2 separate regions of the Homo sapiens genome follow, and region 2 is linked to region 1. Evidence: fine-mapped expression QTL. A gene starts in region 1. The other region holds a variant in brackets. All regions are shown on one strand. Distances are between the middles of the regions. Region 1 holds the start of PPP3CB-AS1 (PPP3CB antisense RNA 1). Region 2 overlaps PPP3CB (protein phosphatase 3 catalytic subunit beta).

The links. PIP is the estimated chance that this variant, and not a neighbour inherited with it, causes the effect. A credible set is the group of variants that fine-mapping cannot tell apart.
Region 2: its variant is the best candidate, but not a certain one, in a credible set for the expression of PPP3CB-AS1 in whole blood (INTERVAL, PIP 0.77).

The regions. Positions count from the first base shown.
Region 1 is chr10:73,493,383-73,498,763 of GRCh38, reverse strand. PPP3CB-AS1 (PPP3CB antisense RNA 1) reads right to left here and starts at 3,012. Exons shown (of 5, transcript NR_132104.1): 1 at 2,947-3,012; 2 at 2,281-2,622. PPP3CB (protein phosphatase 3 catalytic subunit beta) reads left to right here and starts at 2,740. Exons shown (of 14, transcript NM_021132.4): 1 at 2,740-2,959. The coding sequence starts at 2,875. It overlaps USP54 (ubiquitin specific peptidase 54), which reads left to right. Exons shown (of 24, transcript NM_001391956.1): 24 at 1-1,226. The coding sequence ends at 135. RefSeq lists enhancers at 2,534-2,723, 3,214-3,673 and a silencer at 2,804-3,153.
Region 2 is chr10:73,435,110-73,440,490 of GRCh38, reverse strand. It overlaps PPP3CB (protein phosphatase 3 catalytic subunit beta), which reads left to right. Exons shown (of 14, transcript NM_021132.4): 13 at 590-619; 14 at 2,071-4,058. The coding sequence ends at 2,249. Among named protein-coding and RNA genes, the nearest start is that of MSS51, 4.2 kb to the right of the region's middle. The variant G/A (reference allele first, on the strand shown) is at 3,198.

The DNA.
Region 1 (5,381 bases):
GACTGGAGGCAAAGCAGTTATGCCTCCCACTCTGGACACAGGAGAACAGTGGGAGAGGGGTTTCTGTTTGTTCTATCAGATGCTCCCAGAAGAGAGCAGATCAGGGCTAGAGTCCTGCAGCACAGTCAATGGTAAAGGTTATTCCTTTCCTTTCCTGGAGCTACACCTTTCTTTGTAAAACTGTACTGTGGGCCGGGCGCGGTGGCTCACACCTGTAATCCCAGCACTTTGGGAGGCTGAGGCGGGTGGATCACGAGGTCAGGAGATTGAGACCATCCTGGCCAACATGGTGAAACCCCGTCTCTACCAAAATACAAAAAATTAGCCAGGCGTGACGGTGCGTGCCTGTAGTCCCAACTACTCGGAAGGCTGAGGCAGGAGAATTGCTTGAACCCGGGAGGCAGAGGTTGCAGTGAGCCGAGATCGCACCACTGCACTCCAGCTTGGCAATAGAGTGAGACTCCATCTCAAAAAACAAAACAAAACAACAACAAAATAAACTACTGTGGCAGCGTTGGTACCCTGCATCACTGCCATGGTTGTGCTATTCTCATCTCAACATAGAATTGGTGGGTTCTCCTAAGGGTGTCAGGAACCTCTAAAAAGATGTGATTCTTTGGGAGGGGATATTTGAAATTCCAACTTCCATTCCCCCTAGCAAAAGGAAGCAGCTGCTGTTTAAGGGTTTTATCTGAGCCACTTTAAAGATGAATCCATGGTATTACTCTGGATACTAGCCATTCCTTAGGATTTTAAGGTCACATTTTATTCCTGGATGCTTTATGTCCCCACCTCCACCTGAGCCCTCATCCTCTGTTCCCTACTATACTCCCAACTTCTACTCTTTGTTTTATCCACCTATCCCTATTACCTGACCCTTTGTCTTCCCTGTCTCCCATCCTTGGGGGGACATGTAGCCCTGTGGTCATGGTTCTGATGACATCATCAGGGCAGCCCCCCTGCCCAGGTATTATGGCCTGTCAGCATTCCCTGTGCCCTCCAAACCTTAGGCCTAGAATGCGGAGCTGCCAACATAACATTCACCCTTTTGAACAGATGGAGTCAGGCACACTAACACAGCCTTCTGTCCTCAATAACACAGCCATTATTGCCACTTGCTCAGTCGTCAATGTAAACCCTCAGAGTCAGCTGAACTATTTTAGGCCAAACATACTGTTTTTGTAAAGTATTTTTCATTAATAAATCTATAAGACAGTTCTATTTAATTCCTTGTCATTCTTCCCTTTGTATGCTCTTGCTTTCTTTGTATTGGGGCTGGAAGTCTGGATAAATATATGAAGTGGCTTTTGACTGAGTGGAAGTGAGGAGCCAGAGACGAGTTGAAGGATATACAATCAAGGTGGGAATCAATGGGTCCTAAAATAGGGTGCCTTTCCTTTCTAGTATTGCTGCTAGGATGTTTCCCATCCCTTTCCTGACAGAGCATTCAGTACTCAGTACATTATACACTTCCTTCCTCCCCTCCTTAGGAAGATTTTCTGGGGATTCAAGCTCTTCTTACAGACTCACTCCTGATCAATGTACTCCAGGTGCCTTCCCTCTATCTTATAAGTTTGTGACGTGCCTCCTGTCCCTTCCTTCCTCTCCTTCCGTGGGGGCCTCTCCCTTTCCCTTCCCCTGTGGTGTTATGGCCCTTCCATGCCAGAAAGATCCATTTTCACCTGTGCCTCACTCCCGAGACTCTTCCCTCTAAAAAATAGCTTGTGGGTTCCCTTTTTGGAAAAAATCCATTGTTGGGTCTTTCCCTTCCTCTTTTCCTGGGGTCTCAGGATAGAAATTGACACAAAGAAGAGGTAGAAAGGTACTCCTTGGACCTTCGGACTACTACTTACTTACCACCATGCATTATGAACAGATTCTGAGCACATGTATTATTGAGCAGGAGGATGGGCAGGAATTGGTTGTTCCATCCCACTTGGATCCTGCACCATCAAGATATATAGAGCTTAGTGGATATGCTGGTCCCTGTCCATGATTCAACATATCTCCTGGTGTCGTGGACACACTCATCTAATAATTTTTGATGAACAGTCAGTTCTTGCCCCTCTACCCCCTTTCCCATGAGTGTCAGTCACCGTGGTCTCTATAAAGGTTCCATAAGTCACCTGGGCCCAGATTCTGTGCATGTGCAGAAATAAGGAATTAATTTCCAATTCCCTATTTACTCCTCTGCCTTCCAGGAGGAGGTTGTATCCTTTTCAGGTGAATTCTTCAGATTCTTTGCACATCTCTTGGTGTCATCCCCTTTATTCCCCTTACCTGTTTTGACAAACTATGGCGCCTAAATTGCTCTAGCTGCAGTCTTATTCTGTGCTTTCAGACTCTTGACAATTCCAGACTCTAAACACAAAGGCCAGAATTCTCTTTCAAACTCCATTTTGGATGGTCCCTTCTCCACTCTAGAACCTACAATGCTTCCTCTATTCTCTGGTCCCCTACCAACCCTTCAGTATTCAGATCTGGTAGCTAAATCGTTATACATTTCTCTATTAGTAGGAGATCCTGAGGTTTAATCACGTCTTCTCAGTTTACTGGGAATGCCATGAGAGCGGGTGTGTTTCCTCGCAGTCGTTCGATCGCAGCACCTCCTCATTCTTCATTCTGCATGCAAAGAATTTTAACCTGATCCCTTGGCCTCGTCCTGTTTCTCTCCTAGCTTCAGTAATTTTGCCCAAGTCCCTAGAGCCTACCCCGCCCCCACCCCCGCACGCGCAGTGCATGCCGGTCTTAGCCCCTCTGTAGGGAAAGAGGGTCCGCCATGTTCCCCGGCGGCGCCGCCGCTTGGCTCTGGTAGCCGCCGCCCCCGCCCCCAACCCCGCCCGGCCCAGAGCCTAGCCGAGCCCCGGGCCCAGCATGGCCGCCCCGGAGCCGGCCCGGGCTGCACCGCCCCCACCCCCGCCCCCGCCGCCCCCTCCCGGGGCTGACCGCGTCGTCAAAGGTGAGAGGTGGACGAAACCCTGGGGGCCTGGCCTGAAGAGCTAGCTGTGTGTGAGGGCGGGCGGGAGACCGTCCCCTCGGGAGTGGGCCCGGAAGGGCGGGCGAGTGACTGGCTGCCTCCCTTGGGGAGTGGCCCCTGGGCGGGCCCCTGCTGGGCAGGGCTGAGTCGGTGGCAGTGGTTCCGCGGTCTCCCGGTTGCTTTCAGGCCGGGGCGGAGGTTTTGCTTCCGTGGCTTCCTAGCCCAAGGGGTGAGGCTGTTAGCTGCAGTGAGCCCGTTTTCTCTTCACTCGGCCTGTCAAAGCGGCGCAGGGGCCGCGATTAGCTTCCTGCCCCGCGACAGCTGCACTTCTGGCTTGCCGGGGCGAACCGAGGGGCTCGGAGACCTTCAGCCACGCGAGGCCCGCCAGTGAGCAGTCAGAAATCACCTCGGCTTTGGCCCACGCCTGCTCCCCGGTGACAGTCGTCCGCCCTATCCGCGTCTAGCTGGCGACAACCGCAGGGGTTCACTTTTGGCCGTCAGGTGCCACCCGGAGCAGAAATTAGGGGAACCTTGTGGGATTGGATCACGGTGAAGGGTCGGGGCAGGAATTGGAAGGCCAGCCTTTATAGTGCAGAAAGGGAGAAAAAGCAGCATAAACGAAAAAAAAAATTCTTGTGGATAGCAAGTATTTACTTAGAAAACCATCAACACTTTGGTCAAAAGGAGTTACCCCTCCCTTACAAACACACACCCACACATTCATCCTAGACGAAAAAGTTAAATGTTTCTCAGCCAGGGCAGAATTTATGGATGTTTACCCACAACAGGTCAGCAGATTAATTTAAAATAGAGAAATTGAGGGCTAATTGAGAGTTGCTTAAGATTCCAAGCTTCCTGGGAGAGCCTACCAACCTCAAACACTGCTGTGGAGGTGAAAAACAATTGAAATGATTCTCTTTACCATGTAGCTTGATTGATAAATTGAAATCGTAGAATGAACTTTTCCTTATTTGTATTGTATTTATTTTTAAAATATAGGTACTTTTGTTTTCATTCAGCTTCTCAAATACACTGGCACAGTATTTAAACACCGTTAGCCTACTTTTTGAAATCTGACTCATATGTTTCCATTAAAATATTTAAAAACAAGGAAACCTTTTTTCTTTTTTTTTTTTAATTAAAAATTTTCAACCTGAGCCTTCTTCGGTTCTTAAAAGAATAATACTAATTTGGCCTGGCGTGGTGGCTCACATCTGTAATCCCAGCACTTTCGGATGCTGAGGCAGGCGGATCGCTTGAACTCAGGAGTTGGAGACCAGCCTGGGCAACATGGCGAAACCTTTTCTCTACCAAAAATACAAAAAATAAAAATTAGCCGGGCATGGTGGCGCGCCCCTGTAGTCCCAGCGGATCGGGAGGCTGAGGCACGAGAATCACTGGAGCCCGAGAGGCAGAAGTTGCAGTGAGCCGAGATTTGCGCCAGTGTGCTCCAACCTGGACGACAGAGCCAGACCCTGTCTCCAAAAACAAAAACAAAAACAAAAACAAAACACTGATTTGCACCTAGGCTTAAGTTAGTAGTATATCCAGTTGGGCCAGGCATTGGAATGAGCTGAATAACGAGTTTATGGAATCCTTAATACAGAGAAATCTTAAAAAAAAAATAGTAATGCAGACATTCATTCTATCAAGAAATCCTGGAGTTTTGTGGGGGTGGGAACGGGACATTGGCTACCTCTTCATTTTCTGACTGTATTTCTGTGTTGTGTGTTCATTTCCCTGGGCACTTTTCACCAGACTGTTAGATGGGGTAACCAATCACATTCCTGAACAATGAGTTTATGCTATCCTTACGTTTGTGAATCTTCTTATTCCTTGTCATATATATGGTAATGTTTTTTCTGTACTGCTTTAATGCAGTGAAAATAAGATTCCAAACATAAGGCAGATTCCTTAGGGGTGAGTTGTGAGTCCAAGGCAGTCATATTTGCAGGTTATTGGTGTGGAATAAAAGCCATTTGATTTAGATAAATAGGAAAGGAGCTTGTTAATATAGAAAATTATAGTTAAATAAAGCTTATGGTTATCATATTTCTGGTGCTTCATTGTGCCCTCTTCATAGAGACAACTTTCATTTCTTTATGGAATTTGTTAACCAGTTGGAATTCCTGTATGGATTATATGTTTTAAAATGGTGTGTAACAGACTAATTTGCACTGCTCATGGAGTCTCCTGCATTTACTGGGAAATTCACCTTTCTTACAGATCCAGAAATTCACTTTTAAATTTCATCTTCAGGATTCTTCCTTGTCTTTTATTCAGTAATTATACTATAATGTGATACCTGATATTAGAGAATACTGGTTGCCTGATGATAAATGATGTGAGTTCAGCTTAAGTTTAACTTGTTAAAATCCAAATTTCTTTTAAGTCCACAATGTGG
Region 2 (5,381 bases), 58 kb after region 1:
TTACTGCCCTTAAATTTCACTGTAGTCATATCAGCTCTTGCAGCTTATGTTTTGCCTTATAAATTACAAGTAACAGGTAAAGCATTGCTGACCCCTTCTAGTTTATGTCTTAGGGAACCAACTGGTAATGAGTATTGTTCTCACTGACATGAAAGAAAAGACTTTTCTGTTTGCTTTTCTGCTACAATTCTATTATAATTTTACCCTAGAGCATTTTCCTGTGATTGTGATGGATGTGATATAATAAACATAATGGAAAATTCTAAGGCCATCAAATTACTGATTCAAGATGGGTAATTAATACTGGAGTGCATTTGCATGGGTGCTGAGGTGTCTGTGTTTACAGTAGGTTTATGTGTTCTGTGCTCTGAGTGATGTTGTCATAGTGCTGTGTGTAAACTGTGCTGTGTCAGGAATTGGGGGTTTGGATGGGGCTCTCTAATTTGGGTACTATTTATGTTAAATTTTAAATGATGATGTAGTATGGGATACTGTGATATTTTAAGTGATCATTGCCTTTTCTGCTGTACAATATGACCCTTCTCATCTCTCTCATTCATTTTGCATGCCTCTGCTCACTTCTGTACAGCCACAGTTGAGGCTATTGAGGCTGAAAAAGGTATGATCAGAGTCCTTGTGCTGGGCAGAGATCTGTGGTGTGTGGGTGGGCATCAGAGAATGTCCTGTGGGTGTGTTTTACTCCTAGCTTTTACAGCCCAAGATGAATCAGACTCACTGATTCATCAAGTTTAGAAGCCTTGCAGCCCTCTTTTTTTAATTTTTCATTTTTAAATCAGAAGGGCTGATGTCTATGGTGACAGTCTTTTTCTTCTTTCCGGTGTAATATGCAATCAGAAAGTAATGTTTCTGATTTCTTTAGAGTATAGCATGTTATGCTATACAGTATAGCTTTATAAAGTTGCCTGTTTTAATGGAAATTGCCAAACTGACCTGCAAATAGAGATCTGTTCCATATTTTGCATGATTCTATGCTACTCAGATTTTTTTTCCCTAAGTGAATCCTCCTCTAGGTATAGGTGTGAGTTTGTTTTTACAAACTAGTGTGCCTGACTGAGAATACAGGAACTGTCACTATAATGATTTTCTTTTTTCTTTTTTGGCCGCAGTTTGGGCTATAGTTTATGGATAAGATTATGTTCATATATATATGTGTTGGCTTGGTATTTCACATTCCTCAGTGTTTGTAGCCCCAGCCATTTGTTTGGTTCATGTGCCAGACTAAGACCTAAGGATTGCAGATATTAAGCAACCAGATTATAACCAGTGGTTTGAAAATATTTCCTATGAACACTTTAATAATGGAGGATGCATCATTCTAGATGAAGTGAATGAGAAACCATACAATTGGTGGAGAATTGCCATTTATTTTGATTTGAGTTTCCAAAGACTGTGCAGTATGGCCAATGAATTAAGGAGAACATCTTCTAAATTACGAGATTATAAATACTTTTTTGCTATCAGCCATACACAGATCTAACTCTTGGAGGCACTTCCACCTTTTTAATGTTATATTGGTGGCGATGGGCTGACCTTGACCTCCAAGATAGTTCTGATCTACTGTATTTTAACCTTTCTTTAACTCTTTCTCCTCCCAAGCTCTTGGTACAGATTTGTATATTGAGGATTAACCTTGTTTAGCCTCCTCACTTGCCCCTACTCTCATTGCTGCCTTACTGTGATAGTCACTGGTGATCTTAGGGACTGATGTAGGAGATAATTGGTATAGTAGAAGTCAGACTGAGACCCTGAGACCATTGCCTGGAGGTTGATTTTGGGGGCAGGAGAGGGTTAACATTTTTTTTGTATTTTTATTTTTTGGAAGGCTTTGCTAACACTTGTCACCTATAAAGCTATGATGTTTATATTTAGGTTTAAACATTTCACATTTTAAGGAAAGACTGAAATGAGGATAGGATTCAGTTAAAGTAAGATTTATGTGTTGCTACTTACAGCTACTAATTTCTTTCTTCTTAAAAATCATTAATTATGTTTTTGAAATCTCAGAAATGTTTTTCAATTACTGACTTATCAAATTTGCATTTTATTAAGCAATACGAGGATTCTCTCCACCACATAGAATCTGCAGTTTTGAAGAGGCAAAGGGTTTGGATAGGATCAATGAGAGAATGCCACCTCGGAAAGATGCTGTACAGCAAGATGGTTTCAATTCTCTGAACACCGCACATGCCACTGAGAACCACGGGACGGGCAACCATACTGCCCAGTGACCCACTACTTCCCAGGGACTCTCACATCTCGGGCCCCAAATGGACAGATCACCCGAGGAGCTGGAGGGGTCGGCCAAGCTGACTGTAAATTTCACAGTCTCTCTGAAGAAACCATTGTGCTTCTGAGACCCTAGCCCCCTTCCTGGATGGAGGCTTGAGGGCCCTGGGACATGTGCTATCTGATAAGATTGGGTCATCGCTGCCAAGGTGGAGAGCAGTGAGCAAGGGGCTTGGGGCAATTTCCAGTGGAGGGCATCCACACCTCCATTTTATGCTTGTGGTTCACACATTTAAGTTTACAAATCAGATTTCTTTTCCCCTTCAGTAGAATTAGATTTTGTTTTTCAATCATGATTTCAAATGCAATCCTAAGAGCTAATGTGGACTTTTCTTTTTCCATGAAATGTCTTTAAAGGATGAATTAGCATGGTCTTAAAATACATTTCTGAGGTTACTAGCTGTATTTTGAATTGTGAGCAAAATGCCGAGAAACCCAGTTGGCATTTATACAAAATGTTGACCTCAGGTCTATAGTTCTTAAATGTGGCTAATTCTGTAACATAGTCTTGGTATTTTTTAATTATGAATGCATATCCTATTTCCAGGCAGGCTCTCTTACTTGAACACAAATCCAAAAACTAATTTAGAGTCTTTTTTGCCCAGATCTTTTAAGACTTACACCCCAGAGATTTAAGAAGAAAACCTCTAAATTTCAAAATTATGAAGAATTACAGAATTACTCATTTAAGGTACTTTAAAAGAAGTTTGTACATTGTCAAAGTAAATTTTAATTCAAATCATGTCTGTAAAACTTGACGTATTTTGTGTATGCATGTTTTCATTTTGCAAATATTTAATATATAGACCTATGATGTACAGGTACGACATGTATAGGTTACCTAGATGTTATGAGAAATTTTAGTTTATTGTGAGTACTCAAGTTGCTTA[G/A]AGAGCCACCAGGGTGATTTGCTGCTGGCTTTCTATCATTTTTATGTTTTAATGCAAAGGAAATTTTAAAATGTTCTGGAAGTGTTTTTGATTAAGCAATGCAGCCTAGAAGCAATGGTTCTGTTCAATCATTCAGATGTTAGTGGAAGCATAAAAGTCAAGACTGCATGTTGAAACCTTTCTTTTGATAGTTACTGAACTGCTTGGTTAAACTAAATGGAACCATGTGCTAATTTTTCACAATTATTGACCTGTATTGATTGCCACTGTAGTTTGGTATTTCCCTTTACTTTGGTGGCCTGCTTCCCTCATGCCCTGGAATACAACTCAGAGCTCCAGGCAGCGGAACCATCTATTGTTTTGTTTGCCAGAAAGTGCACCCTGTATGGTCTCCTGTCTAAGTTGGAAATATTATGCATGTGCAGGACTATTCGAGTATTTTATAAACAGTAGCACACAATAAATTCCATGCATGGGCCGCTGCTCCTATCTCTGTGTTGGGTTTTATTTGGAAGATGCAATCTGATTTGTCCTTTTGATGCAAATCAGAAAATCCTGTTACTAGAGCTGGGATGTCCTCCGGAGATTATCTCGTGGATAGTTCATGGTAATTTGATTAATTAAATTCTTTATAAATTTTGCCTTAAAAAAAACTTTTGTTATATACTTGTTTTACATGAGCATTAGTAACTGAGCACTAGAGGACTTTGAATGCCTACTGTAGGCCTCCTAAGTCTAATATTTAAGATCACTGTTTATTGTCTTTTAATTGAAAGAAAATATGTTATTGTCTAGAATTTTGTTATAGTGGTATTGGGAATTTACTGGGTGTTCTAACAATAAGAAAAATATTAGTGATAATTGCATTTTCCTATCATTCCTTTCTTCTTTGTCATAATCACAATAAGTATAGGATTTTGCACATTGAGGGATATTAGGATATTGCTCAAAATTATATAATCATACAATAACTTGAATTATAGTTCTCAACAATAATTACAATGAGATATATTATAAAACACTAAGTCAAAATATAGGCAGGGCACAGTGGCTCATGCCTGTAATCCAAACACTTTGGGAGGCTGAGACAGAGGATTGCTTGAGCCTAGGAGCTCATGGTTGCAGGCTGTGTTGAGCTATGATTGTACCACTGTACTCCAGCCTGGGTGACAGAGTGAGACCCCATCCCTTAAAAACAAACAAAATATATGTAAATATATTAGGCAAGCGCACACACACACACACACACACACACACACACACACACACACACACATGCTTGCCTAATTCCAGGTAACAAACAGAACTTCTCAAATTGTTTCTTTTTTCTTTTTCTTTTGCTTTTTTTTTTTTTTTTTTGAGACGGAATCTCTGTCTGTCACCCAGGCTGGAATGCAGTGGCATGCTCTTGGCTCACTGCAACCTCCGCCTCCTGGGTTCAAGCAATTCTCCTGCCTCGGCCTCCCAAGTACCTGGGACTACAGGTGCCCACCACCACGCCTGGCTAATTTTTGTATTTTTAGTAGAGATGGGGTTTCACCATGTTGGCCAGGCTGGTCTCAAACTCCTGACCTCGTGATCCGCCCACCTCAGCCTCCCAAAGTGCTGGGATTTCAGGCGTCAGCCACTGCACCCGGCCACAAATTGTTAATTATTATAACTCTCTGCTTGCCAAAATATTAACTTACAAAGCAGTCCATGAGTTGGCTCTAAAGTTATTATGCATTGCATACCTTAAAGATTGTTGTCTATGTTGTTTATGAAAGTTGCATACCTTAAAGATTGTTGTCGATGTTGTTTTATGAAAGCTATTCAGTAAAGAGTTTATCTGGCTAAAATAGACCCAATAGAAAAATTAAAAAGTAAGTAAGAGTTTAACTAGTATATTAGGTGCCAGGAACTTTCCTAGCCCTTAGGTACATAACTAGCATTATATAGTGTTTGTGGGAATCATGGGTGAGCATTAAGTAGTATTAGCAAAAAAACTATGGATTGATGGTAAAAATTAAGAGGAAAATAAGAGAAAGGAACCAAACTCAGGAAAAGCAAAATACCTGAAGAGTGATAAAGTATCACATAGTGCCTCACAGACCACTTCCTACATGTTGAATAGGAACCTCTTTCTAGTCTTTCTTCATAATTCATTTCACAGCATACCATTTATTAAGATTTTTTAAATGCAAC